2 separate regions of the Homo sapiens genome follow, and region 2 is linked to region 1. The links come from fine-mapping of genetic effects on gene expression. Tissue or cell type: whole blood. Region 1 holds a variant in brackets; the other region holds the start of a gene. All regions are shown on one strand. Distances are from middle to middle.

Region 1 (2,681 bases):
TCTGGGTCTCTGTTTTCTAATGTGGAAAGTGGACCAGGTGCTTTCTGGGTTGTTGTTGTTTAATTCAATCTAGGCAACACTCGCTCACAGAAGAATTCATGCACATACACGGCGCCACGCTAGGGGCTGTACGCACGCACGGCGCCACGCGCTAGGGGCTGAACGCACACGCACGGCGCCACGCTAGGGGCTGAACGCACGCACGGCGCCACGCGCTAGGTGCTGAACGCGCACGCACGGCGCCACGCTAGGGGCTGTACGCGCACGCACGGCGCCACGCGCTAGGTGCTGAACGCACACGCACGGCGCCACGCGCTAGGGGCTGAACGCGCACGCACGGCGCCACGCTAGGGGCTGTACGCACGCACGGCGCCACGCGCTAGGTGCTGAACGCACACGCACGGCGCCACGCGCTAGGTGCTGAACGCACACGCACGGCGCCACGCTAGGTGCTGAAGGGGCCGCAAAGATGAGTAAAATGCAGAGCGGGCCTTCGCAAGGCTCACAGCCCAATTCTCTTTTCCATTTTGTAGTCCTTGTGAGCTGAGCAAGGCATTATCATCCTTTTATTTAAAACAATAGGGGAAACACCGGGCGCGGTGGCTCACGCCTGTAATCCCAGCACTTTGGGAGGCTGAGGCGGGTGGATCACGAGGTCAGGAGATCGAGACCATCCTGGTTAACATGGTGAAACCCCGTCTCTACTAAAAATACAAAAAAAATTAGCCGGGCGTGGTGGCGGGCGCCTGTAGTCCCAGCTACTCAGGAGGGTGAGGCAGGAGAATGGCGTGAACCCGGGAGGCGGAGCTTGCAGTGAGCTGAGATTGCACCACTGCACTCCAGCCTGGGCAACAGAGTGAGACTCTGCCTCAAAAAAAAAAAAAAAAATAGGGAAAACAACAACAGCAGCAATAGGGGACTTGTCCCAGCTACTGAGGAGGCTCAGGCAGGAGGATTGTTTGAGCCTAGGAGGTCTAGGCTGCAGTGAGTCATGATGGCACCACTGCACTCCAGCCTGGGCGACAGAGTGGCAAGACCCTGTCTTAAAAAAAAAAAAAAAAAAAGACGAAGGAGAGAAATAATGTTTGACCATGGAAGGTCACACATTTTTGTTGTAGCTAGAGCATGA[T/TC]CCAAGTCGATTCTGAGTCTGGGCCTCTTTCCACTCCCAGCTGTCCTACTAGCCTAATTCATCTGGCATCACTGGGGCCAAAAGCTACAAAGTCCATTTTGAGCTCTAACTTTGCAGAGTCATTTCCATCCTCCTGCCTTCCCCATCCTGACAAGTGCACATGCACACACACATTGCCAGACACCCAGCAGACACAGAATCAATGCTTTTGCGTGAGTGAAACAGCCCCTCTGGCAGCCCTCTTCACCTGCCCAGTCCCCAGTGCCCAGCACCCAGTGCTGAGCTGGTGAAGATCCCGTGGCCAGAGGCACACTTACCATATACATCATGACTCAGATCCCATTTGCTGACTTGGAACTGAAGCCTCTTGCCCCACCAAGCAATTACTGGAGAACAGGAAGTCTCAACGGAAAATGAGGTCAGCCTGGTGGCTGAGAGGAAAAGGGTCAGCGAGCACAGCCTTCTGCCCCCGTGGGTCCCCACAGCGGCCAGCCCAGGGCCCTGCATGCAGCAGATGCCCACCACAGCTTCACTGGTGGGTTAGCTGCTCTGAGCGACTCTGTTCAGCCCAGCCACAGGAGGGGGTTACCAGGCAGGGACTTAATATGTGGCTCTAGAGTCTGAAGGAGACAACTTCAACTCAACCTTGTTTAGCAGAACTGGGCTATGACAAGGACAACCACAGCACTGGAAATCTATTCTTTTTTTTTTTTTTTTTTTTTGAGACGGAGTTTCGCTCTTGTTGCCCAGGCTGGAGTGCAATGGTGCAATCTCGGCTCACTGCAACCTCTGCCCTCCAGGTTCCAGTGATTCTCCTGCCTCAGCCTCCCAAGTAGCTGGGATTACAGGCACCCACCACCATACCTGGCTAATTTTTTGTCTTTTTAGTAGAGACGGGGTTTCACCATGTTGGCCAGGCTGGTCTCAAACTCCTGACCTCAGGTGATCCACTTGCCTCAACCTCCCAAAATGCTGGGATTACAGGCATAAGCCACGGCACCTAGGCTGGACATCTATTCTTTAAAGAACTCTGTGTTACCAAATTCAGTTCTGCAATCTGTCCCAAGAACTTCCTTTTCTGTGCCCTAAGTTACGATAGAGGAAGAGGCACATCAACCCCAGGCCTGCCTGCCTTTCTTTCTTTCCTTCTTTTCTTTCCTCCTTTTCTTTCTTTTTCTTTCCCTCTTTCTTTCTTTCTTTTTCTTTCTTTCTTTCTTTCTCTCTCTCTCTTTCTTTCTTTCTTTCTCTCTCTCTTTCTTTCTCTTCCTTCCTTCCTTTCTTTCTCTCTCTCTCTCTTTCTTTCTTTTCTTCTTTCTTTCTTCCTTCTTTCTTTTTGTCTTGCTCTGTCACCCAGGCTGGAGTGCAGTGGCACGATCTTGGCTCATTACAACCACCACCTCCTGGGTTTACGCAATTCTCCTGCTTCAGCCTCCTGCATAGCTCAGATTGCAAGGGCACACCACCACACCCAGCTAATTTTTGTATTTTTAGTAGAGACAGGGTTTCACCATGTTGGCCAGGCTGGTCTCGAACTCCTGACCTCAAGTGATCT
Region 2 (2,681 bases), 53 kb after region 1:
CTGCCCAAAACACACACAGAGAACGAGAGAGAGAGAGAGAGAGAGAGACGCGTGCACATACTCTGCTTCAACAAAACAGCTCTTCTTTAATCCGAAGTGTATATTGGGTGGCTGCTTAAGATTTTGTTCGAGGACCAGGTTCAGGGATCAGAAATTCTTGATCTCAAAAGTCCTTTTCCACACTTTGTTTGATTCTCTGCAATGTTACACAGCCTCAGCAGTGGTCATAGAAGGGTTCGTTCTATTCTATCCATTGGCAAGGAGTCACAGAGTGCAGCTCCCAGCAATCTGGCTCTCCTCTCACCGTAACATCCCACCCTTTCCCCTCCAGCAGTGGACTGGAACCTCTGATGCCTTCCAAGCCCATCCCAGCTACAGAGGGACACACATCTCTGCCTCTTCCTAGGAGATTAGACTGATTTCCTTTCCTTGCACTGTCCAAATGAGACGCTTTCTGTCCTACACAGTAGAGCTTTGTGAAGACAGCCGAGAAACGGCTCAAGTTTTTTCCAACCTGTAAAATGCAAAGTTGGCCAGCTGCCTCTCTTCCTAGCCTCAAAACTCATATATTTCCTGTCTCCCCGGCAGCTCTAAGAGAAGTCTCTACTGTCCTGGGGTTTGGGGAAAGCACTGCTCAGAATGTGAAATCATTTTCTGGTAATACGGATCTAATTAGCTCTTTGACTGACAAGAGGAAGCAGAGGCCAAAAGGGAGTTAACCAATCTGTTTTTCAGATATTTCAAAACAAGTGAAGAACCAGATAGGGAAACAGAGAGAAAGAGAAAATAAAGAGACAAAGCCTAGGGAGCATTTGGAGAAGGGAGTGAGTAAGAAGAGAACGGGGAGGGAGAATATCAAGTGACTAAAGTATCAATCCTCTGTTCTTCCAGCTTCACCTCTACTCCCGGTCTCCCCTCTGCTCTCTTCCAGAGAGAACTTACTTGAAGGTCGATGTTTTCTCTTGCTGATTCCATCTCGCTGCCCTCAAGTCCCTTCACACGCACCGGGTGCCGGGAACAGACTGCGTGGGCTCCTCCAGGCTCCGCCGTCTGAGTCTCTGCTGCTTTCTTCGGGTGGGAGAGAGCACACAGCTGGCGGGACAGACCTGCCATTCATCCCTCTGATGTGGGATGCCCGTCTTGGCTGCAGCCTCTGGGGGAGGTGTGCACCTGCACACACGTGTGAGTGTATGTGTGTGCACATGTGTGTGCTCCAGGAGGTGGCACATGGCACACTGATAGGTGACCTTTTGAGTTGGTAGTGACAGCATCATTTTCACCAGTGGCTCCAGTGACCTTCCAGTCCCAGCGGAGCCATCTGAGGTCACCCAGCCTGCTTTGAGCTAGTAGCTTTATGACTGGCAAAGAAATCCTGCATGTTTATCAAGCAAATTGAAAAACAGCCTGAGGACAACGCTATCTGACTTCACCGCTGGGTCCAGTCCCCAGTCGCCACGGGTGGAGTGACCTCCAGCACAGTCTCAATACTGAGGCAGAGGGATTTCCGTTGTTCTTTGCTTTGTTCCCTATATCCCTAAAAGTTTTTAAAAAAATTGTAGTTTACCTAATAGGCTCCAAAGCATAGGCTTTGTTCTGCAAAGTGAGTGAACAATACGTTTTTACTGACGGATTGTTTGATTCCTTCAACTCCTCCCTTGATTAGCCATAGAGGGAGCAGGGAGTAGTTGTACCTTCGAAGCTTGTTTATGCAAACAGTGGTATTCTCCCTACTTTTAAAATAAAATTACCAGGAGGGAGTCTTTTTTTAGAAAGTTTTTTTTTTCCTCTCCTGTTTACCTTAGAGCCCAAAACTCTTCTGGCTTGTTCCTGAAGCAAGGTTTAGACACAAGCTTGTGCAGGTGTGGGTGTGGGTATGTCTGTAGACGTGCATGGCAGGGTGTTAACCTGTAATCCAATTCAGGGCTTGAAGAGGTGCGGGCAGGAGGAAGACAGGCAGAGTCAACACGTTTACCCTCACCACATTCAAATGTAAAAAAAAAAAAAGGCGATTTCTTCAGTTCTATGAAATGCCTTTATAAGTTCCCATCCCTCTGGACAGTGGTGCGAGGGAGGGTTGGATGATTGGATGGGGGCCATATTTTAGTCTAATCTATGAAGCATAGTTGGATTTAATCATTTAAATGGTAAACAGTCCACTTTAGACACAATGCTCAGTCTTTCGGATTTGCAGAAGATGGCACCTAGGTGCACAGGAGGGCGGGGTGGGGACGGTTCTTGCATCTATCCTGTGGCCTCTCCATCTCGGCTCCTTTCTGTTCTGGAGCTGCTGGGCCCACGGGCCCGCCCGAATTGCTGACTGCTGAGGAGACACAGGTCCTGCTCCTGGGTCTTCTGCTGGCCTTGGTGGCTGATGTCTGATATTAGGCCAGAGTCACTCATGGGTGATTCTCTTTCTGCCTTTGAGATCCAGTGTTCTCCCTTGCTGTCTGCGCTACCTTGGCTCGTGGCAATGTGGACCATCCTGAGACCTGGCTTTGACTTGTATGTGCCCCCATCCCACTGTATCCGCTCAGTGGCCCACATCTCTAAGATAAGCCCCTCGAAATTTTCCTGTGAGATGCTTGACCAGTGCTCCTGAGCCCCCTTAGGCACATGGGGACTGAGGGCTGCTGACGAAGGGCAGGGGAAAGGCAAGCTCAGCCCCACTTCCAGCAGAGTTT

Evidence for each region. PIP is the estimated chance that this variant, and not a neighbour inherited with it, causes the effect.
Region 2: it holds the start of NINJ2, and the variant in region 1 is fine-mapped to the expression of NINJ2 in whole blood (INTERVAL, PIP above 0.99). The same link has a PIP of 0.9 or more in left ventricle.

Annotation. Positions count from the first base shown.
Region 1 is chr12:608,900-611,580 of GRCh38, forward strand. All of the region lies in intron 1 of NINJ2 (ninjurin 2), which reads right to left. Among named protein-coding and RNA genes, the nearest start is that of NINJ2-AS1, 21 kb to the right of the region's middle. RefSeq lists enhancers at 1-261, 262-778, 1,032-1,533. The variant T/TC (reference allele first, on the strand shown) is at 1,130.
Region 2 is chr12:662,386-665,066 of GRCh38, forward strand. NINJ2 (ninjurin 2) reads right to left here and starts at 1,060. Exons shown (of 4, transcript NM_016533.6): 1 at 943-1,060. The coding sequence starts at 975.